Regions from separate parts of the Homo sapiens genome. Here regions 1, 2, 4, 5, 6 and 7 are each linked to region 3. The links come from fine-mapping of genetic effects on gene expression. A gene starts in region 3. Each other region holds a variant in brackets. All regions are shown on one strand. Distances are between the middles of the regions. Region 1 overlaps NAAA (N-acylethanolamine acid amidase). Region 2 overlaps PPEF2 (protein phosphatase with EF-hand domain 2). Region 3 holds the start of NAAA (N-acylethanolamine acid amidase). Region 4 has its middle 6.7 kb from the start of PPEF2. Region 5 overlaps CXCL9 (C-X-C motif chemokine ligand 9). Region 6 holds the start of SDAD1-AS1 (SDAD1 antisense RNA 1). Region 7 has its middle 31 kb from the start of LINC02483.

Region 1 (4,067 bases), 20 kb after region 3:
TACATTCCCTTCTTCCAGGTACAGGGCAGGATCCTCTCTGGAAAGGGGATCATATGACCTACAGTCAAACAAGTTAGGACAGATCATTTCTTTTTTTTTTTTTTTTTGAGACAGGGTCTCACTCTGTCACCCAGGCTGGAGTGCAGTGGCATGATCTCGGCTCACTGCAACCTTCATCTCCTGGGTTCAAGCAATTCTCCCACCTCAGCCTCCCTGCATAGCTAAGTATAAGGCAGGAAAACTCTACAAAGCCCTGCCATGGGTTTTGTAGAGTTTTCTTGCCTTATGGTTATTGCTGTTAAGGTTTATGGTGCTGAATGACGGAGCCTTTGCAGACACCAATACCTTGAATTGTTCTTTTGTTTGACCCTATCACCACCTCCACCCTTGACAATGTGCCCTGGCAATATCCAGGATGGGTGAGCATACAGTGTACTTCCTTTAAAACATGGCAGCAGAGTGGTTGTGAAGGTGGAGACAGGAAGAGCAGGCCCTCCACCGAAGGATATTCTTGAGCAGATCAGCTCTAGGAAGGAGCCCATATGGAATCTGAAGATTTGGGGAGTGATCCCCTTAAGTATCCTTGCCACAGGCCTTTGGAAGTCATCATGCGCCCTCGGGGTGTCTGAACACCAGTTAAGCTCAGGGCGCTAATGTAGCGCATGCTCTTTCATCCCCAAGCCTTTGCCAGTCTAGTCCATCGAACTAGAACCCTCCTCCCCACTGCCACTCCTCACCCTGCAACCACCACTTTCACCACTCACTTGTGTTTGTCTCTTTAGCTTCAATTCATGCGATGCTTCCCAGCAGTACCTCCTCCACTGCCCTTGGTGAGGATGGGACCCCTACTGTGACGTCCATAGCATCTTATTCTCCTATGTGAACTCTCATTACACTGTGTCACCATTGGTTGTTGACTTTTCTGTCTTCCTCAGAGGCTTGGGGAGAATAGGACCAGGCGACTCATTCACTGCTCTATCCCCCACCAGCACAGTGCCTGGCACAGTGTAGATATTCAAGAAAACCCTGTTTAAATAATAAATGAATGAAGAAGCACAAAAAGTCCTTTGTGAGGGCGATCTGCCTGGAGAGCACACAGCCGGTGTTTGCTGAGCCAGGCCTAGGGCTTGTCAACAGTTCTCTCCTCCTGTCAGAATTTCCTGCTGCTCCTGGCTCCGCTTTGAAGCTGAAATTTCTTCCATCTTAGGAGCCCTGATAACAAGAGGATAAGGTCAGAGCAGATCAAGGTGATAGTCATGACATAACATATCAGGAGAATGTGCTTTGGATCATTTTTGCATCATCTGGTGTGGACCCAACTGCAGGTGGGGTTGCTCACGCAAGTTCATCCTTTCGTTCAGACCCTGAGTGAGTCGGAAAACTTCGAAGCAGCTGTTGGCAAGTTGGCCAAGACTCCCCTTATTGCTGATGTTTATTACATTGTTGGTGGCACGTCCCCCCGGGAGGGGGTGGTCATCACGAGGAACAGAGATGGCCCAGCAGACATTTGGCCTCTAGATCCTTTGAATGGAGC[G/A]TAAGTAGAATTGAAAGCTCTGGTCATTTTGTATCAGATAATCATTTTTTTTAATCGGTGAAATGAGGGGTATTTTAAATTTGTTCATATGTCTCCTCTGCTATGTCGTAAATTGCCTTGGATAAGACAAGATGATGTGCTCTGTTGTAGGTGGTTCCGAGTTGAGACAAATTACGACCACTGGAAGCCAGCACCCAAGGAAGATGACCGGAGGTAGGCTGCTACGTGCTTTCTGGTTTGCAGTGTTTTCTTATGGTCAGGAGAATATGCCCATTCTGTCACAGGAACTGGCAAGACCTATGGGTGCTATCCTCTCCCAGAAAATGTACCTGAGCCCCTTCGCCAGTGCCTTGGCTGGGAAGGGAGTGTTGTGTGGAGGAGAGCAGTGGGCAGAGCCTCTCAGCAGCTGGGCGGGTGTTGGGAGGCTGTCAGGGTCAGGAGCCCTAGAGCCCACCACCAGCTCTGCTAGTGACTCACTGGGTGGCTCTCGGGCCTCTGTTTACCAGTCTGTAAAATGAAAGCAAAGGGCCAGGTTCATGGTCTTCTAGGCAAGATATTTTTAGAAGGAAATTATTTCCCTTATTTAAACAATAAATAAACCAGTCAAGGGTTTTTATTGTCCCTTCAAGTTGTAAACATTCTATAATTATAAGTCAGCACAGTTCCAAAGTGCAGGTAGCTATATACGTTGCCTTGGCTTTACTACCCCACAAGTTTGGCCACTGTTCAGTTCTGCAGCCACACATTTTCATCATCCCAGCTTTCTGGAGCAGATGGTGCCAACCGTCCCAGCTGCTGGATGAATTCCACTGTGGTGGGCTGGGCCTCAGCAGGAAACAGGCTTGGGGCCAGAATCTGTTTTGGAGAAAGGGAGATAATGAGACTGGAGCTTGCATTCTGCCTCCCAAAAATGACAGCTGATGGGCTTCAGTGCTTGTTGAAATGCCAAGTGACCTTCGACCTTTGTCCTTACAGAACATCTGCCATCAAGGCCCTTAATGCTACAGGACAAGCAAACCTCAGCCTGGAGGCACTTTTCCAGGTAACTTGTGTCACAGTGTCCTGCATACCTAGGATGTTTGGTGTTTTGTTAATAGTGAATATGAAAAACTCCGTGAAATCTTCTGGTAGATGAAAACGTTAGGGTAAAAGTTTTATTTGGTTGAAATCATGTATTAAAAGTGGTGGCTCACACCTGTAATCCCAGCACTTTGGGAGGCCTAGGCAGGCAGATCACGAGGTCAGGAGATTGAGACAATCCTGGCTAACACAGTGAAACCCTGTCTCTACTAAAAATACAAAAAATTAGCCAGGTGTAGTGGCGGGTGCCTGTAGTCCAAGCTACTCCAGAGGCTGAGGCAGGAGAATGGCGTGTACCCGGAAGGCGGAGCTTGCAGTGAGCCGAGATTGCGCCACTGCACTCCAGCCTGACAGAGCGAGACTCCGTCTCAAAAAAAAAAAAAATTATATGACATTTTCTCAACTTGCTTTTATATAAGTTAAAATGTCCATCTTCACCAAAGTTTTTCTTTATATTAAAAAGAAAAAGTCATAGTTGTAATATATGTTCATTGTTTAAAAGAAAAAAAGAGAAAGAATTAAAAAGTCAGGCCGGATGTGGTGGCTCACACCTATAATCCCAGCACTTTGGGAGGTCAAGGCAGGAGGATCACTTGAGGTCAGGACTTCGAGACCAGCCTGGCCAACATGGTGAAACCCCGTCTCTACTAAAAATATATAAATTAGCCAGGCTTGGTGGTGTGTGCCTATAATCCCAACTACTTGGGATGCCGAGGCAGGAGAATCGGTTGACCCTGGGAGGCGGAGGTTGCAATGAACCAAGATCATGCCACTGCATTCTAGCCCAGGTGACACAGCAAGACTGTCTCAAAAAAAAAGTCTATATCACCTCAAGGTACACTAAAGAGTGGTTATGTTCTTTCTACAGACATTCTTTTTTTTTCTTTTTTAGTAAAGACAGGGTCTCTCTATGTTGCCCAGGCTGGTCTTGAACTCCTGGGCTTGAGTAATCCTCCCACGTCGGCTTCCCAAAGTGCTGGGATTACAGGCCTGAGCCACTGCACCCGGCCCTCCATAGATATTCTATGTGTATTTCTTCTACCATGTAATCTTCTCTATAAAATGACTTTTTCCTATGCAGATTTTGTCGGTGGTTCCAGTTTATAACAAGTAAGTGGCTTGTTAAACATGTCTGTTCACACATCACTCCAGAACAGTGAACTCACTCACGTACTGTTTGGCTCAGCAAGGATCTGAGGGCTCCTGTAACCAGGCTGTGGGGGCACTCCTGTGGGGGCACTCCTGTGGGTACAGCTGCGAGCAAAACAAAGTCTCTGCTCTCATGGGACTAATATGGGTGGGGTGGGGGTGGTGGTGATAAACAAATATAAATCAGGTGAGAAGTCCATGAAGAAATCCAAAGGTAAAAAGAATAGAGTGACCCTGAAGGAGGCTCTGGGAATTTTTTTTTTTCTTGAGCCAGAGTCTCGCTCTGTCACCCAGGCTGGAGTGC
Region 2 (4,067 bases), 49 kb after region 3:
CCAGGCTGGTCTTGAACTCCTCACCTCAGGTGATCCACCAGCCTCAGCCTCCCAAAGTGTTAGGATTATAGGTGTGAGCCACCACGCCCAGCCTCATTCACTATTCTGAACATGGTTTTACAGAAGTCAGTCAGTGGGGTTCAACCTCATCGCTTACTATTTAGTGAGTGCCTTTGAGAAATACTAGTAGTATGAATTTTTTTCATAGGAAATCAAATTTATCTTTGTTTAAGTTCCTCCCAGCTTCTCTTTTCCCATGTCACCATCATCTTTCCTCTTAGGGAAATCAGCAAGAATTCTATTATCTGTCTAATGCAAACGAAACATATTAAATCAATCTGTCTACTCTTTATGAGGTTGACCTGAGTCAGCCTGCAGGATTTCTAATCCAGCCTGCAGGATTTCTAATCCAGCTTTATCCACAAATAGTCCATTCATCACCAGCAGTGTATCTAAGCCTTGGAGCTTAAAAAGAATCTAGTTATGTGGACAGCTGTTCCCTTCTCTGGCAACAATACTTGACCACACAGGTCCTAAACCTTATATAAAGAATGAAACTCCACACCCTAACCTGCCCTACCTGGTCACCTAGCACAGGTCCTGGCAAAAATGAGAGGCCCAGTGGCCATGTGGGGGACTGCATGGTCAGTGCTGTCTATCTTATGACGGGGGTGCTTAAAGCCTGTAGGGATATCATGGAACTGGGGATGGCAAGCATGGGAGCTGGGACACAGTTGCTACCCCCTGACATCGTATGATGCATTCATTTGAGTATTCGTTTATTGTTTGCTTTTCCTAGTCTTCATCTGGCCCCGCCCCTTTTCCAGATGAGGACATTGAGGCCCCAGATGACTTGTCTGAAACCACAGAGCTTGTCAGGGCAGTTCTAGGTCTAGATCCCAGGTGTCCTGACATCCAGTCTATTGTCACAATATCAAAATGTCCACCCCACCCCCGCATTATAACCTGTCAGGGATGCTGCATCCTTGCAATCTCATGAGTTTACATCTCCTTCTCGGAATCCTGGCAGTCCAACCTTTTCATCCCTATACAGAAATGTTTTCATCAATACATGGGAATTCTAATCAACCTACAGTGATATGAGTATAACCATCAGGCAGGAATGAAGGGGAGGGGCAGGAAATGGGGAAAAGCACTATTGCCAGCAGAAAGGGAAATACTTCCTATGGGCGTCAATGGGTAGTGCTTCTGCTCCATCTTGTCCTCACATATACAGTGGGAGAGGGCTGAGCAGCTTCCTCTCCCTACCCCCAAACCCCTGGCCCAGGGAGTCCGAGCTCACAGGCTTGCTTCTCCATCGGTGTCATAGCCTTCAAGGCAGCAGCCCTGATCCAGAGATGGTACCGGCGCTACGTGGCCCGCCTGGAGATGAGGCGGCGTTGCACCTGGAGCATCTTCCAGTCTATAGAATATGCTGGGCAGCAAGACCAAGTCAAGGTACAATGAGATGTGGGACGGAGCCGCCTCCTGCTCTCCCTTGGGCAGCAGGGCTCGGGTGCTCCTAAAGTGAGGCCAACTGGACTACTTGTGGGTTCTCTTTTCGCTCACCTCTAAAGCCACGTCTCCTTGGGTTCTTCTGCAGCTCCATGACTTCTTCAGCTATCTCATGGATCACTTCATCCCCAGCAGCCACAACGACAGTGAGTATGAACTGCCACATGTCATGTCCTCCTGTCGCAAGGCCATAGATTACACGGTGAGGTGGGGGATGCACAGGGAGTGAAACCGTGAATCTGGTGACAGCCAGGGAATAAGCAAGGGGCTGAGGAGTAAATGGCAGACTGGGGTTTTATGCCAGGTTCTCCTGAACACACACCTGGAGACAAGAGTTTGGACGCAAGGAATTCATTTATTAAGTTCAAGAAACCCTGGGGGTGGGAGGGAGTGGGGAAGGGATTCAGGAAAGGAATCGCAGCCAGTCCAGCAACTCAGTGTGCCTAGGAAACAGTGCAAAACGCAAGCCTCAGAATTATACCCCCTGCAGGCAAAGGGAACTGGAGTTTTTCTGTGTCAACTCCAGGAGTCATTGGTTGAAAGCGGCTGGGGAGGTGGGAGAGAAGTATAGGAAGGAGGCTTTTTCTTTTCTTTTCTTTTCTTTTTTTTTTTTGAGACAGAGTCTCGTTCTGTGACCCAGGCTGGAGTGCAGTGGCATGATCTTGGCTCACTGCAACCTCTACCTCCCGGGTTCAAGTGATTGAACCTCAGA[T/C]ACCCAAGTAGCTGGGATTACAGGTGTGCACCAACACACCTGGCTGATTTTTTATATGTTTAGTAGAGATGGGCTTTCACCATGTTAACCAGGCTGGTCTTGAACTCCTGGCCTCAAGCGATCCACCTGCCTCGGCCTCCCAAAGTGCTGGCATTACAAGCGTGAACCACTGAGCCAAGCCAGGAGGTTGTTAATTCCATAGCATTTCTGGCCTGCCATCCGGATCCAGGAAATAAGTCCTCAGTCTGGAGATGCCAATGCTGGCAGCTGGAAGCTGCTGGAAGGCACTGCCAGGTCTGATGCACCTGTTGCGCTCACTAAATGCAACATAAATACCTGTGATTTTTCCACACTGGCTTTCCCCTTTCCTTCTGCTTGCAAATCCAGGTCCCTAAATTTCTGTACTCTCTAAGTCTGACAAATCTTGATCTTTTAGAATAAAAGTAGAAAGCATGACTTTTTCCTCCTGCCCATCCTAGACTGTTGTCACTTTCTCCTTCCTTTTTCCTCTTCTGTGCTGGAGCTGAAGCTGAAGCCAGATTAACCATGTCCTGCTTCAATAGTCCAGGGAAGGACTTTTTTTTTTTTTTTTTGAGACAGGGTCTCACTCTATCGTTCAGGCTGGAGTGCAGTAGTATCATCTCTGCTCATTGAAACCTCTGCATCCCAGGCTTATGTGATCCTCCCATCTCAGCCTCTTGAGTAGCTGGAACTACAGGTGTGTGACACCATGGCTGGCTAAATTTTTAAATTTTTTTTGTAGAGGCAAGGTTTCCCTATGTTGCCTAGGCTGTTCTCAAACTCCTGGGCTCAAGCAATCCTCCCTCCTTGGCCCCGCAAATTTCTGGGATTAGAGAGCCACCGTGCCCAGCCAAGGACTATTCTATAGTGCCCACAGACTGCATGATCAGATGATCATAAGCTGATCCACCTTTTCTATCTGGACTAGGGGACTTCCTGACCCGCATATTCACTGAGGACAGATTCGCCCAGGACTCCGAGATGAAGAAATGCAGTGACTATGAATCCATAGAGGTACCCGACAGTTACACGGGGCCACGCCTCTCCTTCCCACTCCTGCCTGACCATGCAACTGCCCTGGTAGAAGCATTCAGACTGAAACAAGTAAGCTCACCTGGGGAACCTGGGTCACTACCAACTCCATGAAATGTGTGAAGGGAGACGAAACCCAGCACAGAAAGAATGGCCCCAGATTTAGGGTGTTCATGTCATGTGTCCACTAGAGAGATTCTACCCCTGCTGTGCTTAGCCAGGACCTTGCAGTCAATCAGCCAGTTCTGATGATTGACAGCTTTTCTTCCTAATCACATAATCTCTCATTGTTCATTCATCCCACACATAACTACTGAGCACTGCTGTGTGCCCCACATTGCTCTGGGCACTGAGGATACAGCAGTGAACAAAACAGATAAAATCTCTGCCCTTATGGGGCTGGCATTCCATCGGGGAGGCAGACAATGAACAATAAATAACAATAAATAAGACAATTATGCAGTATATTAGAAGGCGATGAGAGCTATGGAAAAGAATAAACTAAGTTATGGATGGAAGAAATAGCAATTTTATAGAGTTGTCTGGGAAGGTGATTTCTGAGCAAAGATCTAAGGTGGTGAGGAATGCGCCGGAGAAAGAGCGTTCCAGGTAGAGGGAGGAACACATGGAAAAGCCCTGAAGCAGAAACTTGCCTGGACTGTTCACGAACCTCGGGAGGCCACTGTGGCTGGAGAAGAGGGAGCCAGGGGAAGAGTAATGGAGGTGAGGGGGTGGACTTTTATTCTTCCAAAAGAGACAGGGAGACAGCAGACATAGGAATGACATA
Region 3 (4,067 bases):
TTGTGACCTAGTCTTGGAAGTCAACCACCAGCAATTCTGATTCTATTCATTAAACCAAGTGACCTCAGATGATCAGCCAGCCAACGTGCTGGGATGACAGGCGTGAACCACCATGTCTGGCAAGAAATTTTGTAATTCCTTTAAGTGTTATCCTTAAAAACAAGTGATTGATTATAAAAGTTGTATTTCTTCATCCTAAAATTGGTAAAAAATAAAAAAAAAATGTGTTTAGTTTCTACTATGCATTTAGTTTTTTTTTTTTTTTTTTTTTTTTTTTTTTTTTTTTTTTTTTTTTTTGAGACAAAGTTTTGCTCTTGTCACTCAGGCTAGAGTGCATTGGCACAATCTCGGCTCACTGCAACCTCTGCCTCCCAGGTTCAAGAGGTTCTCCTGTTCAGCCTCCCAAGTAGCTGGGATTACACCACCACGCCCGGCTAATTTTTGTATTTTTAGTAGAGACAGGGTTTCACCATGTTGGCCAGGCTGGTCTCAAACTTCTGACCTCAGGTGATCCACCCGCCTCAGCCCCCCAAACTGCTGGGATTACAAGCCTAAGCCACCATGCCCGGCCCTTTCATTTAGTTTCTACTATTCATGTACACATGTACCCTGTTTTACCCACAGACAACTGTGCTAACCGTTAAGAATGTCCCAGCCTTACTAAGATTTTCCTAAGTTTGTCTCCCAGACATTGGGAACTCAAAGGTGAAGAAACTTAGGTGTGAAGGTGGATTGTGGATTCAGACCTCCTTACTTGGAGGCCAGTGCAGAGACACACCAGCAGAGTAACCTCGGGTACATGGCTTCACCTCTCCAAGCCTCACACTCCTCATCAGTAAAGCGAGGATTAGTGGAACCTACCTGTTGGCTTGTTTTGATGATTAAATGAGATAATGTCCGCGAAAAATATTTAGCAGATAAATGTTCACTAAATTTTGAGCTTTAAAAAAATGTTTTACCAGCCAGGCGCGGTGGCTCACGCCTGTAATCCCAGCACTTTGGGAGGCTGAGGCCGGTGGATCACCTTAGGTCAGGAATTCGAGACTAGTCTGGCCAACATGGTGAAACCCTGTCCCTACCAAAAATACAAAAATTAGCCAGGTATGGTGGTGGACGCCTGTAATCCCAGCTACTTGAGAGGCTGAGGCAGGAGAATCGCTTGAACCCAGGAGGCGGAGTTGGCAGTGAGCGGATATCTCGCCGCCGCACTCCAGCCTGGGCAATAGAGTGAGACTACATCTCAAACAAACAAACAAACAAGCAAACAAAGTTTAACTGAAAAGTCTTTCCTGACACCTTTTCGCTACTGAAAATCTTACAGCCCCTCCCGGCCGCAGCCTACACTCCTTCGGCCCAAGCAGGTGCGCTGGAACCGGCAGTTGGTGAGAAGCCGGCTGCCGGCAGCCCCAACCCTTAGCGGCCCCGCGGTCAGGGACCTCCAGGCCCGATGGAGAGTCGGGGCGGGCTAGTGGATGCGCGGCGGGGACGGGAGGTGTCGCCGCTCCGGCTTGCCGGTGACAGGGGCGGGCGGGTCGTGCGCGGGCCCCACCTCCAGCGATCGCAGCCCAGCCCCAGCTCCTCCTCCTCCACGGCTTACCCGGGCTCCGACAGCGGCTGCAGGTCTCCAAGTTGCGGCCGCTGGAGCCCGAGCCATGCGGACCGCGGACCGGGAGGCGCGCCCGGGGCTTCCGTCCCTGCTGCTGCTGCTGCTGGCCGGGGCCGGGCTGTCAGCCGCCTCGCCCCCAGCAGCGCCGCGCTTCAACGTGAGCCTGGACTCGGTCCCCGAGCTGCGCTGGCTGCCCGTGCTGCGGCACTACGACTTGGACTTGGTGCGCGCCGCGATGGCGCAAGTCATCGGGTGAGCTGGGGCCCTGGACGGGGTCTGCGGGGACACCGGCCCTGCGGGTCGGAGTCAAACGCGCGCTGCTCAGAGTGCTTTAAACGGGGACGCTTTACTCCCCGCCACCCTTGGAGAACTGGTTTTGGCTGCCGCCCTGAGCAGCGTCCGGGTTGGGGAGAATCCAGCGCGGCAGGTTCGGCTTTCAAGTTCGGTGTCACCCGTGGCACGCCAGTCCTTGAGCCATTCCGGGTCAGCGTGGCGCGCGAGTTGTCGCCCGGGCTGCATAGCTACCAAGGAGGGGCAACCCGCGCCTTCCTTGCGGGCCTCGCGGGCCTTCCAAGCTTGCCCCTTTGGGACCAGCCTCACTCGCCCTCCCCATTCGGAGTTTTCTTACCCGCCGCCTTCCCCCCGCCCCCTTCCCCCCACTCCCGGGAGGCTGCAGATTGAGTGACGCCGCGCCTGGGCGGTCCACTGACTGGGGAGCAGTGGCCCTGAGACCTCACGCCCTAAGGATGTAGCCCCGCTCGCAGTGCACACGCAGTCGCACGCCGCCGACCTCTGAGCGGGTCAGACGCCCTTGTGCTTTTTGTTTCTAGGGACAGAGTCCCCAAGTGGGTGCACGTGTTAATCGGAAAAGTGGTCCTGGAGCTGGAGCGCTTCCTGCCCCAGCCCTTCACCGGCGAGATCCGCGGCATGTGTGACTTCATGAACCTCAGCCTGGCGGACTGCCTTCTGGTCAACCTGGCCTACGAGTCCTCCGTGTGAGTGCCCCAAGCCCGCGCGGAGTAACGCGGGGCTTGCGGGGGCCCCCGACACAGACTAGCGGGAGGAGACATATTTTCCGTGTGATAAAAACAGGGCGGTGCCTGCTTGCCTAGAAACCTCCAGCGCTTCCTCTTTGCCTCTCTGGGTAAATCTGAGCTGCACATCGTAGGCTTCGAGAGGGAAAGCAGATTCTCCGATTCAACACTAAACTTTCCCTCTACGTGTAGCCCCGGGTTTTCTCTTCCCCAATCCAGGTAGCGTACTTTTAAAATTCTGCTCAAAGGCCGGGCGCGTTGGCTCACACCTGTAATCCCAGCACTTTGGGAGGCCAAGGTGGGCAGATCACGAGGTTAGGAGTTCGAGATCAGCCTGGCCAACATAGTGAAACCCCGTCTCTACGAAAAACACAAAAAATTAGCCAGGCGTGGTGGTGGGCGCCTGTAATCCCAGCTACTTAGGAGGTTGAGGCAGGAGAATCACTTGAACCCGGGAGGCGGAGGTTGCAGCGAGCCGCGATCGCGCCACTGCACACCAGCCCTGGCGACAGTGCGAGACTCTGTCTCAAAAAAAAAAAAAAAAAAATTCTGCTCAAAACGTACTTTTCCAGGAAGTTTTTGAAACTAAGCCTCCTCTCATCTGGACCCTTTAGTTAACTCAGTGGCCTTCCAGCTCTATACTGGCAGTGGCTCATCTCTGCCCTTATTTGTCGCCCTGCATTTATCCTTTCATGTGTGTCGTGGCTGAAGTGTCTGTGTCCACCAGGGCTGGGGCGACAGGGAACACTGCTCTAATAGGGCCAGCCAGTGTTTGGACCGGGAAGTGGGCATGATAAAATGTGCATCCAGGCTGGGCGCGGTGGCTCACGCCTGTAATCCCAGCACTTTGGGAGGCCGAGGCGGGTGAATCACCTGAGGTCAGGAGTTCAAGACCAGCCTGGCCAACATGGTGAAACCCCGTCTCTACTAATAATACAAAAAAATTACCAGGGCCTGGTGGCGGGCACCTGTGAATCCCAGCTACTTGGGAGGCCGAGGCAGGAGAATCACTTGAACCCAGGAGGCAGAGGTTGCAGTGAGCCAAGATGGCACCATTGCACTCTGCAGCCTGGGCGACAAAGCGAGATTCCATATCAAAGAAAAAAAGTGCACCCAGAAGTGAAAGCAACATGGAGTGTGTGGTTGATCCCAGGCAAAGTGCAGGGGACCACTAAAGGTTTATGGGCTCAGTAATAGGCCCTGGAATAAAGAGAGGTTTTGACTTGGTTTCTTCCTTCAATACTTATTGTTTTGCCAGCAGACTAGCTTCATCTCGTAACCTCTTGTACATACTTAGAGCTTCTTGCTGCCTAAAGATGATGGGGGTAGAAAAGATCTTGGAATAATGAAACTTTACTGGCCCAGGCATTTTCCCAGAACACCTAGGCAGAGTAAGCTAAAAAGCACTGGGACTGCCTTCCTCTTCA
Region 4 (4,067 bases), 31 kb after region 3:
TTAACTGATGACATTTCACCATTGTGATTTGTTCCTGCCCCACCCTAACTGATCAATTGACTTTGTGACAAGACACCCTCCCCACCCTTGCAATAATGTACTTTGTGATATTCCCCCGCCCTTGTGAATGTACTTTGTACGATACACCCTCCCCACCCTTGAGAAGGTACTTTGTAATATCCTCTCCGCCCTTGAGAATGTACTTTGTAAGATCCACTTCCTGCCTGCAAAAAATTGCTCCGAACTCCACCGTCTATCCCAAACCTATAAGAACTAATGATAATCCTACCACCCTTTGCTGACTCCTTTTTTGGACTCAGCCCACGTGCACCCAGGTGATTAAAAAGCTTTATTGCTCACATGAAGCCTATTTGGTGGTCTCTTCACACAGATGTGTGTGACAGTGATAACAGTGTCACGTGGTTTAACTACAATGTGTCCAGATATTGAATTTTGTTTAAGCCTGCTTGGGATTTGTTGTGCTCCCCAAATTTCAAGTTTGTGTCTTTTGTTCAATTTTGGAAAATAGTCAGCTATCTCAGAATTGCTCACCTACATTCTCTTGTGTCTTTTCTCCTGAACTTTAAGTATGCTGAAGGAGCTCAGAACACACTACCCCAAATATGCCACTTTGGTATAAGGACTATTTTGAGCTAAAGGCACTTACAAAACCAGCAGGGAAAAGAAATTCACTCTGACCCTCCCCATTTTCTTCCTGAAAACAAGAGATAAAATCTCCATTTGGAAGATGTCCTTCCAATATCAGGAGGAAAGTAACACTCTTATCAACAATCTAAATGTCCATCTAGGCATGAATGGATAAAGAAAATGTGGTATGTACACACAGTGGAATATTATTCATCCTTTAAAAAGAAGACAGACAGGCACAGTTGCTCACATCTGTAATCCCAGTTACTCGGGAGGCTGAGGAGTGCTTAAGCCCAGGAGTTTGAGACTAGCCTGGCCAACATAGCAAGACCTTGTCTCTAAAAAAAATGTTGTTTAAGGCTGGGCGTGGTGGCTCACGCCTATAATCCCAGCACTTTGGGAGGCCGAGGCAGGTGGATCACAAGGTCAGAAGTTCGAGACCAACCTGGCCAATATGGTGAAACCCTGTCTCTACTAAAAATACAAAAATTAGCTGGGCACGCACCTGTAGTCCCAGCTACTTGGAAGGCTGAGGCAGGAGAATTGCTTGAACCAGGAAGGTGGAGGTTGCAGTGAGCTGAGATCACGCCACTGCACTCCAGCCTGGGTGACAGAGTGAGACTCTGTCTCAAAAAAAAAAAAAAATTTGTTTAAACTTTGCTGGGAATGGGGGTGTGCACCTGTAGTCCCAGCTACATGGGAGGCTGAGGTGGGAGGATCACCTGAGCCCAGGAGTTTAAGGCTGCAGTGAGCTATGATCATGCCACGGCACTCCAGCCTGAGCAACAGAGTGAGAACTTGACTCTAAAAATTAAAAAAGATGGTCTCGCTGTGGGGGAGGAAAAATCAATTCCTCTACCCATCTTACGTTCTCAGCTGGGGCCTTGTAAATTAGACTGACAAAAGACAGATTAACATAACAACAAAAAAGATTAACAATTGAAAAAACAAATAGAAGTTGATTAACATATGTACAGAATACGCAATATGGAGTACCCAGAGAAGAGTAACTCAAAGGTTTGTTTTGAACTTGTTTTTATATGGCATCTTAGCAAAGGAACTATAAATTTTTAGAGAAGTGACAAGACAAAGGAAAAGGACCTTGAGTCTCTCGGGGCAGCAAATTGTGGGAAGGAAAACATATAGTAACAAAAGATAGATGAAAGTTAATTGGCTGGGTGTGGTGGCTCACACTTGTAATCCCAGGACTTTGTGGGGCTGAAGCGGGCAGATCACCTGAGGTCAGGAGTTTGATACCAGCCTGGCTAACATGGTGAAACCCCATCTCTTCTAAAAATACAAAAACATTAGCTGGGCGTGGTGGCGGGGACCTGTAATCCCAGCTACTTGGGAGGCTAAGGCAGGAGAATCACTTGAACCTGGGAGGTGGAGGTGAAGGTGAGCCGAGGTCACACCATTGCACTCCAGCCTGGGCAACAAGATCGAGACTCTGTCTCAAAAAAAAAAAAAAAGTTAATTATATGAATTGGGTCATTCTTGTCATGACCAACTAAAAAAGTCAAGACCAGGTGCGGTAGCTCAGCGCTTTGGGAGGCTGAGGCAGGAGGATTGCTTGAGACTAGGAGCTTGGGCAATGTAAGGAGACTCTTGTCTCTACAAAAAACAAACAAAAAAATTAGCCAGTGTGGTGGATCATACTTGTAGTCCCAGCTACTTGAGACAATTGCTAGAGCCCAGGAAGTCAAGGCTGAAGTTAAGCTATGATTGCACCACTGCACTCCAGCCTGGG[C/T]GACAGGATATCTTGTCTCTAAAAATTTTTTTTTAATTATAAAAGGGCATTTAGAGGACAGGAAGAAAAAGCACACAGGGCACAAAACATTGCTCCAAGAATGCAATTCTTGGCAAGCTTGACTGCTGAAACCGTCGTTAAAACCTGAAACCAGTTTTATCTAGTAGCTACTGAAACAGCTGCTAAGACTGTAAGATTAATTTTACCCACTGCAACCACTCACCAATCAGAGTTTGCCCCCTTCCCAAAACTTTACTAGCGCTGATGAACATTCTTTCAAAACAATATGTAACATTTCTCCTTTTTATAAAACTTCCAACCTTCTCTTTGTTCTTTGAACGTACCGAAGATCACCCTGTCTCTGTGGACGACCTGGAATTGCAATTCTTGCTTCCCCCAAAAAATGTTAAATTTGTCTCTATATTTTATTTGACTTAAACAGTAGATAAAGCCTAGTTTGTACAGTTTGGTATGTAGATTTCTCTGGTGCCATGTCCAGGCCAATAAGGATCTAGAATTGTCTCTGGGGATTAGCCTTTGTCCTTCCTGAAAGAGGAAGAAGAGGAGCAAGACTATCTTCTTTTTTATTTTTTTAAAGCCGAGGTCTCACTCTGTTGCTCAGGCTGGAGTGCAGTGGCGTAATCATAGCTCACTGCAACCTCAAACTCCTGCACTCAAGCAATCCTACCACCTCAGCCTCCCAAGTAGCTGGGACTACAGAGTCTTGCTCTGTTGTCCAGGCTGGAGTGCAGTAGAGTCTCGCTCTGTTGCCCAGGCTGGAGGGCAGTGGCATGATCTCCACTCACCACAGACTCTGCCTCCTGGGTTTAAGCAAGTCTTGTGCCTCAGCCTCCTGAGTAGCTGGGATTATAGGCGTGTACCACCAGGCCTGGCTAATTTTTTTTTTTTTTTGAATTTTTAGTAGAGACCGGGTTTTGCCATGTTGGCCAGGATGTTCTCAAACTCCTGAGCTCAAGAAATCCACCTGCCTTGGCCTCCCAAATCACTGGTATTATAGGCATGAGCCACTGCATACTGTTTGCTGCTTTTTTTTTTCTTTTTTTGAGACAGAGTCTCGCTCTTGTTGCCCAGGCTGGAGTGCAATGGCATGATCTCTGCTCACTGCAACCTCCACCTCCTGGGTTCAAGCGATTCTCCTGCCTCAGCCTCCCAAGTAGCTGGGATTACAGGTTCCCGCCACCATGCCCGGCTAATTTTTGTATATTTAGTAGAGACGGGGCCTTACCATATTGGCCAGGCTAGTTTTGAACTCCTGATGTCAGGTGATCCACCCACCTCGGCCTCCCAAAGTGCTGGGATTACAGGCGTGAGCCGCCATGCCCAGCCTGTTTGCTGCTTTTTAATTGCCTTTAGCTCAAAATAATTTTTTTTTTTTTAAGAGACAGAGTCTCGCTCTGTTGCCCAGGCTGGAGTGCAGTGGCGCGATCTCGGTTCACTGCAAGCTCTGCCTCCCGGGTTCACGCCATTCTTCTGCCTCAGCCTCCCGAGTAGCTGGGACTACAGGCGCCCACCACCACACCCGGCTAATTTTTTTTATTTTTGGTAGAGACAGGGTTCCACCATCTTAGCCAGGATGGTCTCTATCTCCAGACCTCGTGATCCGCCCACCTCTGCCTCCCAAAGTGCTGGGATTACAGGCATGAGCCAC
Region 5 (4,067 bases), 61 kb before region 3:
CAAAGGCTTATTAATTTGACTAGAAAATTTAAAACATTACTCTGAAATTGTAACTAAAGTTAGAAAGTTGATTTTAAGAATCCAAACGTTAAGAATTGTTAAAGGCTATGATTGTCTTTGTTCTTCTACCACCCACCAGTTGAATTTCATCATGCTTAAGGCCATGATTTTAGCAATACCCATGTCTACACAGATGTTCACCCAACCACATCCCACTCACAACAGCTGCCTGGAAGAGCAGCCCTAGGCTTCCACGTACTGCAGCCTCCAGAGAGTATCTGAGGCACATGTCAGCAAGTCCTAAGCCTGTTAGCATGCTGGTGAGCCAAGCAGTTTGAAATTGAGCTGGACCTCACCAAGCTGCTGTGGCCATCAACCTCTGTATTTGAATCAGCCTACAGGCCTCACACACAATGTGTCTGAGAGATTCATGCTGATTGTTATTGGGTATCACCACTGGAGATCACCAGTGTGTGGCTTTCAGAGCCTCCTTTCTGGCTTTGGAAGCCATGTGATTCCATCTTGCCCGCTCAGGCTGACCACTTTATTTCTTTTTGTTCCCCTTTGCTTCATTCAAGTCAGCTCTTCTCCATCCTACCACAATGCAGTGCCTTTCTTCTCTCCAGTGCACCTGTCATATGCTCTGATTTATCTGAGTCAACTCCTTTCTCATCTTGTCCCCAACACCCCACAGAAGTGCTTTCTTCTCCCAATTCATCCTCACTCAGTCCAGCTTAGTTCAAGTCCTGCCTCTTAAATAAACCTTTTTGGACACACAAATTATCTTAAAACTCCTGTTTCACTTGGTTCAGTACCACATGGGTGAACACTCAATGGTTAACTAATTCTTGGGTGTTTATCCTATCTCTCCAACCAGATTGTCAGCTCCTTGAGGGCAAGAGCCACAGTATATTTCCCTGTTTCTTCCACAGTGCCTAATAATACTGTGGAACTAGGTTTTAATAATTTTTTAATTGATGTTGTTATGGGCAGGATGGCAACCAGACCATTGTCTCAGAGCAGGTGCTGGCTCTTTCCTGGCTACTCCATGTTGGCTAGCCTCTGGTAACCTCTTACTTATTATCTTCAGGACACTCACTACAGGGACCAGGGATGATGCAACATCCTTGTCTTTTTATGACAGGATGTTTGCTCAGCTTCTCCAACAATAAGAAGCACGTGGTAAAACACTTGCGGATATTCTGGACTGTTTTTAAAAAATATACAGTTTACCGAAAATCATATAATCTTACAATGAAAAGGACTTTATAGATCAGCCAGTGACCAACCTTTTCCCAACCATACAAAAATTCCTTTTCCCGAAGGAAAAGGGCTTTCTCAATAAGCCTCAGCTTTCTAAGATCTAACAAGATAGCCACCGAGATCCTTATCGAAACTCATTTTAGGCAAATATGAGTTTTATTGTCCGTTTACTTGTTTCAGAGTTTGTATTGTGATTATCAATTACCACACCATCTCCCATGAAGAAAGGGAACGGTGAAGTACTAAGCGCTAGAGGAAGCAGCCAAGTCGGTTAGTGGAAGCATGATTGGTGCCCAGTTAGCCTCTGCAGGATGTGGAAACCTCCTTCCAGGGGAGGTTCAGTGAATTGTGTAGGAGAGGTTGTCTGTGGCCAGAATTTAAACCTATACTCACTTTCCCAAATTGAATCACTGCTCACACTGCTGATGATTTAGAGTGC[T/C]GTCCGGTGGAGATCCCACCCGAACGTCTTATCTAATCATGAAACTCCCTAGTTCCTTCATGTAACTTCCCTGAAAAATCTAAGTGTTTCATAAATTTGAGAGTCTGTGACCCACTTACCTTGCATCTCACAGGTAGACAGTATATAACTAACAACCAAAGACTACATATTGTCACTGACACACACGTTATAATCATTTATCATATATATACATACATGCATACACTCTCAAAGCAAATAATTTTTCACTTCAAAACAGTATTGACTTGTATACCTTGTAATTTGAAATATTTTCTTTGTTAAAATAGAATGGTATCAATAAATAGACCATTAATCAGAAAACAGATCTTGATTTTTTTTCTCTTGAATGTACCCTTCAACTGTTGAATGTTTAATAGTAAATCTTATATGTCCTTATTTACTTTTTAGCTTTCTCTCAAATAAAGTGTAACACTAGTTGAGATAACACATGAAAGCTCTTTAAAGGGTCGATCGGGAACAGGAAAAAAAACCTATGGAAAATATGACAACACTGCCTTACAACAACACTGATTTAAAAGAGTTATGTGGGGCTGGGCGCAGTGGCTCACGCCTATAATCCCAGCACTTTGGGAGGCCGAAGTGGGCGGATCACTTGAGGTCAGGGATTTGAGACCAGCCTGGCCAATATGGTGAGAGCCCATCTCTATTAAAATTACAAAAATTAGCTGGGCATGGTGGCATGCGCCTATAGTCCCAGTTACTTGGGAGGCTGAGGCAGGAGAATCACTTGAACTCGGGAGGTGGAGGTTGCAGTGAGGCAAGATCATGCCACTGCACTCCAGCCTGGGTGACAGAGTGAGACTCTGTCAAAAAAAAAAAAAAAAAAGCATTATGTAGAATTCAATGTATTTCCTAATCCTCAAGAGTAACACTATTCCAATGAGGTGTGTCCCCAGGAAGCCAACACGTCTTCTTTTCTATCCCTAAAATTGTATATGTTTAAATATTGTAAAGCCTCAAGTAGTTATGATGGAGACCTAAACACTGAATGAATTATTTAAGGGTCCAGGAAACTTGGGCTGGAGGCATTACGCAGCGTGGAGTCTCTAAGAAGGTTGAGAGTGGAACGAAGAGCATCAGCCTGTACACTTGATGTACACTTTAGAGGCCAGACAGGTGTAATATTCGGGCAGATAACAGCTGCTAATGGTAGACATGAATTCTCACAAGGGCCTTCACCTGAGAGGCAACAGGACTCTGGAAGGAGCTAAGATCCTGGATTCTGAGATATCCTGGTTAGAATCAGGGGCCCACTACTTATTAACTGTGTGACCCTGGTTAAAGTATAATATTTAACCTCCCAGTGCATCATTTTCCTCATTCCAGATTGTTGTGAGGAGCAGGTTCAGCATAGGTCTTGGTGCAGAGAAAGTCCTCAATGTTTGTCCCAGATCCTCCCTAACCACTTACCTCTGCTGCATCTTCCTTGCAGCAGATGGATCCTACATCTCATAGAGAGAGAAATGTTTCCAGCACTGAAAAAACATGTTGGAGAAATGAGACTAAAAGGCTTCCTGACCAGTTCTCAATATCTGTATTTTATAATCCTAGTCCAGGCCATCATTGTCTCTTTCCTGAGCTACCTCAGTAGCCTGCTGTTTTCCCTGTTGGCTCTTCTTCTCAACATTTCTCTTGCTTCCCTAACTTCCATGACAACTAGAATAATCTTTTTAAAAAATAACTTACAGAATGCTGCCACCTTGCTTAAAATCCTGCAGCTTAGCATTAAGTCAAAACATACCATGAGCTGGCCTAACATAAGCTGGGATCTGCCTGCTTATCTAATCATGCTCCCTCTACCCTCCCCTCCTTTGTTGAGCCTCAGCATCACCTTTTTTCTGTATGTCTCTTGAGCACACTGAATTCATTGCCTTCTGGGGTTTTTGTTCCCTGTGGTTCTGGGTTGTACTATATCAACTTGGTTAGTCTTACAACTACATTTCCCAGAATCTCCTTCCCTGTGTGGTTCCAGGTTATAGTTAGCCAAAGAAGAACTCATGTGAGATTTGGAAATCAAAAGTGAAGGAGTGACCCTTAATCTTGATTAGACATATTGACAGACACACTGGTAGCCAGTGGATCCCAGCTTGTCCTTGCTCTTTTCCTCCATGTTCAGCTTATGCTCAGGACTGCTGGCCTCATGATCAGTGATGGTCCCAGGCCCCCCACCCAGATATTTGGCAGTGGACCCACAGAGGCGGTAGTTACACAGAAGCAACAGCTCCCATAGACCCTAGCAGCCCCAATTTGGCGCTGAACGGGCTTAACTTCTTGGATTTTTCACACAAGCTCTATTTGTCCAACTGTCCCAGTGCTTCTGATG
Region 6 (4,067 bases), 41 kb before region 3:
ATAAAACGTGTTGGGAAAACTGGCTAGCCATATGCAGAAAGCTGAAACTGGACCCCTTCCTTACACCTTGTACAAAAATTAAATCAAGATGGATTAAAGACTTAAACAAGAGTCCTAAAACCATAAAAACCCTAGAAGAAAACCTAGGCAATACCATTCAGGACATAGGCCCGGGCAAGACTTAATGACTAAAACACCAAAAGCAATGGCAACAAAAGCCAAAATTGACAAATGGGATCTAATTAAACTAAAGAGCTTCTGCACAGCAAAAGAAACTATTATCAGAGTGAATAAGCAACCTACAGAATGGGAGAAAATTTTTGCAATCTATCCATCTGACAAAGGGCTAATAGCCAGAATCTACAAGGAACTTAAACAAATTTACAAGAAAAAAAAAACCCCATCAAAAAGTGGGCAAAGGATATGAACAGACATTTCTCAAAAGAAGACATTTATGCGGCCAACAAACAGTGAAAAAAAGCTCATCAGCACTGGTCATTAGAGAAATGCAAATCAAAACTACAATGAGATACCATCTCACGCCAGTTAGAATGGCAATCATTAAAAAGTCAGGAAACAGCAGATGCTGGAGAGGATGTGGAGAAATAGGAACTCTTTTACACTGTTGGTGGGAGTGTAAATTAGTTTAACCATTGTGGAAGACAGTGTGGCAATTCCTCAAGGATCTAGAACCAGAAATACCATTTGACCCAGCCATCCCATTACTGGGTATATACCCAAAGGATTATAAATCATTCTACTGTAAATACACATGTACACATATGTTTATTGCAGCACTATTCACAATAGCAAAGACTTTGAACCAACCCAAATGCCCATCAATGATAGACTAGATAAAGAAAATATGGCACATATATACCATGGAATACTATGCAGCCATAAAAAAGGATGAGTTCATGTCCTTGCAGGGACATGGATGAAGCTGGAAACCATCATTTTCAGAAAACTATCACAAGGACAGAAAACCAAACACCGCATGTTCTCACTCATAAGTGGGAGTTGAACAGTGAGGACACATGGATACAGGAAGGGGAACATCACACATTGGGGCCTGTTGGGGTGGGGGGCTAGGGGAGGGATAGCATTAGGAGAAATACCTAATGTGGATGACAGGTTGATGGGTGCAGCAAACCACCATGGCACATGTATACCTGTGTAACAAACCTGCACATTCTGCACATGTATACCAGAACTTAAAAGTATAATTTTTAAAAAGGGGTGGCAGTGGGGGGGTGGGATTTTGACTGGAGAGCTTCATGTACTTGAGATATAATTTATATTTCTGCCCTGTTATTTTTCTGCTGATTTGAGTGCTCTGCATACATGGATATGGTAGTAGGGGTCATTTATTTTTATTTTTATTTTGTGAGACAGGGCCTCCGTGTTGCCTAGGCTGGAGTGCAGTGGCATGATCATAGCTCACTGCAGTCTCAACCTCCCTGGGCTCAAGTGATCATCCCATTTCAGCCTGTTGAGTAGCTGGAATTACAGGTGCACGCCACCACACCCTGCTAATTTTTGTATTTTTTGTAGAGACAAGGTCTCCCTGTGTTACCCAGTTTGGTCTCGAACTCCTGGGCTCAAGTGATCCTCCCACTTTGGCCTCCCAAAGTGCTGGGATTACAAGTGTGAGCCACTACACCCAGCAGTCGGGATCATTTAGATAGTAACT[G/A]GCAGAACAGGGCTACAATCTGAATTTGGGATTCATGCTTCTCTGTTCTTACACCATGCTGCCTAAACTTGTAGTGATAATTCCAAGGAAAAGTTCTTTAGATTATCTGTGATGTGCTCAGGTCTTTAAAAAGCGCACTTTGAAGAATGCAGATAAGGCAAAAGGAGTGTTTTTATATACTTTTGCATTATCTTTTTCTCCATGTGATCGTCAACAGTTTCTACTAAGAATTTCTCTACTGAATGTCTGTACTGAGAAAGTCATGTAATACAATGTGACAAACTTAAATTTTATTTTTCTGCAGTTTCTACAGCAGTATAATCACTACAAATCCAATGTGGAGATTTTCAAATTGCAACCAAATAAACCCAGCAAAGAACTAGCAGAGCTGGTGATGTTTATGGCACAGGTAAGAATATAATTGCTTAAATAAAGACCAGTATTAACACACAGTTTGCTGAATGTTTTTTCACTAATACTCAACCTTATTCCACTCTGGAATGGGAACTTAATTAAAATATTTTTCTAACTTTCCCTTTTTGCAAATTTTATTTTCTCCCTATCATGAGTTAGAGAATGTCACTAGATCTTTTTGCATAACTAACCAGGACAAAACTTTAAGACTATTTTTTTTCTTCAAATTCATCATAAAAGCAGGTACTAAATCATGCCATAAATATTACTAAGACTAGAGAAACCATGATAAATGTTGGAGAAATTAACATGTAGAAGGAAAAGAAGGTTGTTTGGAACCATCTACTTCTATGAAACATAGCCTTTTACTCTCGTTTTGCAGAACATCCTAAATGTATGCATCTGAATTATAGGAGAGAAAGAGAGCAACTTCAGAAGAGCCTTTGCTTTGTTACAGATTAGTCACTGCTACCCAGAGTACCTAAGTAATTTTCCTCAAGAGGTGAAAGATCTTCTCTCCTGCAATCATACCGTATTGGATCCAGATCTGCGAATGGTAGGACCAGTAGTTGGATGAATAAATTGTGCTGTGTTCATGTGTGCTGCGTTCATATATATTTAAATGAGAACAGCCTCTAAGCTAATTATCTTCAGAAAACGTAAATTATAATGTATTATCCTTTCCTAAAAATCCTTCTATGGCTTCTCATTTATACTTAGAGTAAAACGGAAACTTAATAACCTGGCTCAAAAGTGCCTGCATGATCTGCTTCCAGCCTGTGTTTCTGATATCATATTGTTTTCAGCTACACTGTGATCTTTCTATTCTTCCAGCACACTAACCCTACAGGATGCTCTTTAACCTTTTGAGATGATTTCTTCTAGTCATTCAAATCTCATATGCATGTAGAATCCTAATCACAACTTGTCATTTTTATAATGCCTTAAATTAGTAAACTTACCCATTAGACAGTCAGTTTGAGCATTTCATCATTGTCCTTTTAGTGGTTGGGGTTGAGTCCTGGCTGACATTCCCTTCACGAGGCCGGTGTACCTGTTTGCCCCACTTGTTGTGAATGTCAGCTGCTGGTGGCCCTCAGCTGCCCTTTCTCTGCAACATTGTCCTCAGCTAAATCGGAGTCCTAGTGCCTGGGAGGTGTCCTCCTACCCTAGTAGCCCACAGCCCATTATCATGTGGTACAAAAGCCCAGCCCATTACCTCAGGGTGGCTCTGACTCCAATGCAGGATGTGCTCCAGTGTTTTCCTGTGTTGGGACTAAAGCTAGTCTCCAGTCAAGGGCACATCCTTGCTTTGCTTTGCGTGTCTCTGCACTATCCTCCTTCCTTCACTTCCTTTCTGAGATCATACCCCCAACAAATCACTTGTAATAAATCAGTCTCTGCTTCTAGGGACTAAGACATTTCCAAATTTAATACATCTGCTTTTCAAACCTCTTTACAGCAGATAAGTACGCAAATATGATCACAAAACGTACTAATATCCTATAGCACAACTTGTAGAAATGCCAAGTCTTTAGATGAATATTTGTTTTCTTTTAGACTTTCTCAGGTTTTTTGTATTTCTATCATTTTTATACTACTTTAGGATTTTAGTAATTTGATTAGGCCAAAAAGAAAAAGAATACTGTCTCAGACAAGCCAAGGTTTCAGGCCCTGGGTTGTCAACTGATTGATACTCAGCTGGTACATGGGACCTGGCAGTATAGCCCAAGGGACTCCAAACTTGAACCCCTAGTCTAAAGGCTTTTACCTATGTCATGTTACTCTTGAAGTCCTTGTAGGTCATAGAGATTTGATATTTTGAGTATAGAGACTTAATGGCTTTCCAAGTAATTAGGATTTCTTTAAGTTTTATTTTCCTGGCAGTACCCCACCAAACTGGTCTGTGGGCATTATTAAATTAATATATATGCCAGGTGCACCTGTAGTCCCGGCTTCT
Region 7 (4,067 bases), 620 kb after region 3:
CAAAACTGCTGGGGTAGAGGCTGGAATGACCCTGGCATGGTCTCTGCCAGGTACAGAGACCCTGGCATGGTCTCTGCCACTTAGATTTCTGATCAGAAAGCAAGAAAGCAAGCTACAAACAAATCTAGGCTGAGGAATCTGTACAAGTGTTGGCTGAAAGAACATAAAGAGAAGCTTTAGAAGGAAAAGACAAGGTCATCTTAAGGTCGAATTACAGAGGCAATGAGTTAATTTCCATGGAAGGGAAGTAGAAAGTAGCTGTGGGGTCCAACTTCTTTTCTTCTTTCAGCCTCAATTCTTTATGTGTGAAATAGGAATAAAAATTCCCATGTCTCATAATGGGAATGAAAATCAAATGAGATGGGTCAAAGTGTTTTGTAAACTGTAAGGAAAGATGGTTCTGAACTTACCAGGAGATTTCACTGGATCTCTTGCTAAGTAGACCAGAGGAGAAAGGTCTTTGATCACTAATTGATCAAAATTATTAGGCAGGGATGGGAGGCACACACCCTATTGATTCGAGGAAGGTCTCTTCCCCGAGTAGATCCCAAAAGGTGCTAATTGACTACTCTGTAGTTACAATAATAGGATGCCTTCTAATATGTATAATTTTTCTTATTCATATTAGTTTTACTTTATTAATATCATCTTATAAAGTTCTAAAAGCATCACTTTTAAATTATATGGATTTCTTTGAGAATTGAATAGAAACTGTTGGCCCTTTTCTCAGGAAAACACCTAGATAGGTTATTCCCTACTTCACTGTCACACCCAAAATTTTGATGCTCTGATCGGGCAAGCTAGGCAAGCAGCCTCCTTTGCAGAATGCCATCCTGTCTCATTTCTGCCAGGCTGCCATGAGTGTGATATACAACTAGCAGGCTAAGGGGTGAACAATCTATGGCAGACAGGGTGTGGTTGGATCCAGCACATCACCCTTACAGGAGGAGAGTAAAATGGAAGACAAGTGAATTCTCAGTAATGGTTGTGAAACCCCTGCTTCCTTCCTGGGCTACTCGTGAAAGGCCTGACTACCAGATGGGAACCACTATAATACATCATACAACCTGGAATAATTTGGTAGGTTTTTAAGAAGCATACGTATATGTGGAAGGAGGTCTTCTTAATGGGCTGAATGAAAATAATAGCAGCATGTCATTCTTTCACGATGAACTATTTCCCCACTCCTTTTATATGAAGGATGCTCATTAGAAAGTAGCAAAGATAAAGGGTAGGTTTTGGTCTATAATTGAAGTGCACAAGGGGTCCTAATGATACCAGAGGAGGCATAGAACATAAAGTTGCTACTGTGTCATGCCCACCCTTCCCAACTTCTTCTACTCCTCCCGGCTGAATAATGGCTTTGTGAACATAAGTTATTAGGAATCAAAAAACTTTCAAACACATCATCACTCTCTACTTTAAAAAATTAGTGTGTTCCCATGTAATTGTTAGCAATTCTTACATAGATCCAAGAGACACTGATTTGCTTCCACTAAAAATATCTCCTTTATAGGTTTGTTAGTTCACCTCAAATATTTCTACCATTGGGATCCTATCTTTAAAATAAAATATTGAAAACCTATGCTAAAATTTTATGTACTTTATATAAATGTAACTTACCATTAGTTGTTAATACCTTGTTAAGAATTGTTTAGTCATATTGGCTTGGAAGGTAATAAAAACAGAGAATTTTGATGAGGCCAACTCATGAAGAAAGGTTCTGAACTTAGGAGATTTCATTGGATCTCCTCCTAAGCAGATCAGAGGAGAAAGGTCTTTGATCACTGGTTGATCAATATGCTGACAATGGTGGGTTAAGTGGAAGGTGGAGGATGGGAGAGTGAAGTGTGTAGATATTAAGACAAATACAATATGGTTTCTTACTTTAATGAGCTCACCATC[C/T]AGTAGGAGAGCTAGACATTAAAAAAATATTAAAAATTTTGTTTAAAGTAGATAATTTCAATGTAATATGATACATGCAGAAAGAAACACATAGGCACCACCTGCTATGGAAACTAAGGAGATTCCCAAACCAGTCTGGAGTTGGATAAAGTCGTAGAAGTTTTGTTGGAGAGATGAGCCTGACCCGAGTTTTTGTCTGTTTCTTTTTCAAAGCCAGGTTTATTGAAGTAGAATTTACATATAGTAAGATTTATCCCTTTTAGGGGTACAATTTTATAAATTTTGACAAATATATATAAGTTATATAACCACCATCAAAATATAGAATATTTCCATTATCCTAAAATGTTTTCCTGAGCCTTTCTGTAGTCAATTACTTTCCTTCACACTCAGCCCCTGGGAACCCCTGATCTGATTTCTACTCCTATAATATTTTTTCTTTAAAAAATTTTATTTTCTTTCTTTCTTTCTTTTTTTTTTTTTGAGGCAGAGTCATGCTCTTTTGCCCAGGCTGGAGTGCAGTGGAATGATCTTGGCTCACAGCAACTTCCACCCTCCGGGTTCGAGTGATTCTCCTGCCTCCTTCTCCCAAGTAGCTGGGATAACAGGCATGGGCCACCACGCCTGGCTCATTTTTGTATTTTTAGTAAAGATGGGGTTTCACCATGATGGCCAGGCTGGTCTCAAACTCCTGACAAGAGATCCACCAGCCTCAGCCTCCCAAAGTGCTGGGATTAGAGGCGTGAGCCACTGCGCCTGGCCAAATTTTTAATTTTTTGGTTTTCTTGTTTATTTTTTATTTCCTTTTATCTTTTTCCCACACATTCTGATATCCCTATAATTTTGCCTTTCCAAGAATGTCCTATAAAAGGAATCAGAGAGCATTTAGCCTTCGCATCAAGCCACTTTTATTCAGCATAATGCTTTTGAGATTGATCCATGTTGTTACATGTATCAGTAATTTGCTCCTTTTTGTTGCTGAATAGTACTTCATTAAATGCATGTACCACAGTTAGTTTTCTCATTTGTCAGTTGGAGGCCATTTGGGTTGTTTCAGGTTCTGAGGAATTGTAAATAAAGCTGCTATAAACATTTGTGTCCTGGTCTTTGTGTGGCATATGCTGTCATTTCTCTTGGATGAATACCTAAGAGTGAGATTGGTGAGTCATATATTAAATATACGCTTATAAGAAACTCCTTGTTTCCACCAGCCATGTATGAGAATCCCCAAGGGGAGCTTATCTTTATTGAGGTGCAGAAAGAAGATTTATGGAAGACTTTTTTGGCCTGTCATCACGTAAGCTGAGACCCAAAAGAGAGAAGTTACTGTAGCAAAACAGGGAAGAGGAGTTAGTAAGGCAAACGGGCTGAAGAAGAGCATTCCAGGCAAAAGGATTCGCATGGGCAAAAGTTAGCAAAGATGCTTTTAAAAATAAGGATGCCAAGTGTCCGTTTTATGTGACAATATGCAAATTCCTGGTGATATTTGCAGGAGCAGTTTCAGTGGAGTGTGGTGGGTGGAAGGAAATTTAATGATGTTGAAGAGTGAATTGGATGTGAGAATGTGAAGGGAAGTATCTAGACCATTCTCAAAAATGTTGGCTGGTGAGTGAAATGGAGAGAGGGTAGGAGTTGGAGGTAGCCCACAGGGACCAGGAGAGTTAAGAGTTGCAGAGGGCTGGGAAGGATGATGGTTTAGACAGGAAGGGGTTACATATGCAGGCAAGGGAGACAGCAAAAACAGGCTTGGGGCAGAAAAGAGAAGAGAAAATAATGTAAAGGCAGCACTTGACCTGGTTGTCTGACATCTTATTCTTTGCACTGTAGGCAAGGGAGAGAGGTAGAGACACAGCAGAAAGCTGAGGCCATTCCTCTCTGATTTGTCTCCTATTTATTATGAAAACTAAAGAAGACAAAATAGAAGGAAAAGTAGATTCCAAATGGAGAATTTGGAAGTCCTGTCTAGGCTCCCCCTTAAAAAGGCAGGTTCGTAGAACTATATAATAGGTTTATATCTAAAAAAATTAGTACATGTTTTTGGTAAATATAATTTAAATACAATAAAGTATATAAAAATCCCTCACAATCCTACAATTTGTTATTAACATTTTGTTGGATTTTCTTCCAATCTTTTATTTCTTCATATGCTTTTCATGTAACAG

The links.
Region 1: its variant is fine-mapped to the expression of NAAA in whole blood (TOPMed, PIP above 0.99). The same link has a PIP of 0.9 or more in T cells, blood mononuclear cells and monocytes.
Region 2: its variant is fine-mapped to the expression of NAAA in whole blood (INTERVAL, PIP above 0.99).
Region 4: its variant is fine-mapped to the expression of NAAA in whole blood (INTERVAL, PIP above 0.99).
Region 5: its variant is fine-mapped to the expression of NAAA in sun-exposed skin (GTEx, PIP above 0.99).
Region 6: its variant is fine-mapped to the expression of NAAA in whole blood (TOPMed, PIP above 0.99).
Region 7: its variant is fine-mapped to the expression of NAAA in minor salivary gland (GTEx, PIP 0.99).

Annotation. Positions count from the first base shown.
Region 1 is chr4:75,918,418-75,922,484 of GRCh38, reverse strand. NAAA (N-acylethanolamine acid amidase) reads left to right here. Exons shown (of 11, transcript NM_014435.4): 6 at 1,362-1,534; 7 at 1,685-1,747; 8 at 2,510-2,576; 9 at 3,696-3,724. Among named protein-coding and RNA genes, the nearest start is that of PPEF2, 18 kb to the right of the region's middle. The variant G/A (reference allele first, on the strand shown) is at 1,535.
Region 2 is chr4:75,889,242-75,893,308 of GRCh38, reverse strand. PPEF2 (protein phosphatase with EF-hand domain 2) reads left to right here. Exons shown (of 17, transcript NM_006239.3): 3 at 1,331-1,458; 4 at 1,604-1,661; 5 at 3,177-3,352. Among named protein-coding and RNA genes, the nearest start is that of PPEF2, 11 kb to the left of the region's middle. The variant T/C (reference allele first, on the strand shown) is at 2,228.
Region 3 is chr4:75,938,535-75,942,601 of GRCh38, reverse strand. NAAA (N-acylethanolamine acid amidase) reads left to right here and starts at 1,589. Exons shown (of 11, transcript NM_014435.4): 1 at 1,589-1,858; 2 at 2,437-2,601. The coding sequence starts at 1,653. RefSeq lists silencers at 1,367-1,836, 2,237-2,306.
Region 4 is chr4:75,907,143-75,911,209 of GRCh38, reverse strand. It overlaps a transcript of NAAA not described here. Among named protein-coding and RNA genes, the nearest start is that of PPEF2, 6.7 kb to the right of the region's middle. RefSeq lists enhancers at 694-1,615, 1,616-2,538. The variant C/T (reference allele first, on the strand shown) is at 2,399.
Region 5 is chr4:75,999,443-76,003,509 of GRCh38, reverse strand. It overlaps CXCL9 (C-X-C motif chemokine ligand 9), which reads left to right. Exons shown (of 4, transcript NM_002416.3): 4 at 1-2,235. The region is part of intron 2 of SDAD1-AS1 (SDAD1 antisense RNA 1); the gene reads right to left. Among named protein-coding and RNA genes, the nearest start is that of CXCL9, 6.0 kb to the left of the region's middle. The variant T/C (reference allele first, on the strand shown) is at 1,703.
Region 6 is chr4:75,979,968-75,984,034 of GRCh38, reverse strand. SDAD1 (SDA1 domain containing 1) reads left to right here. Exons shown (of 22, transcript NM_018115.4): 2 at 1,998-2,102; 3 at 2,565-2,663. It overlaps SDAD1-AS1 (SDAD1 antisense RNA 1), which reads right to left and starts at 3,245. Exons shown (of 3, transcript NR_125906.1): 1 at 3,070-3,245. The variant G/A (reference allele first, on the strand shown) is at 1,694.
Region 7 is chr4:75,320,783-75,324,849 of GRCh38, reverse strand. No RefSeq gene overlaps it. Among named protein-coding and RNA genes, the nearest start is that of LINC02483, 31 kb to the left of the region's middle. The variant C/T (reference allele first, on the strand shown) is at 1,906.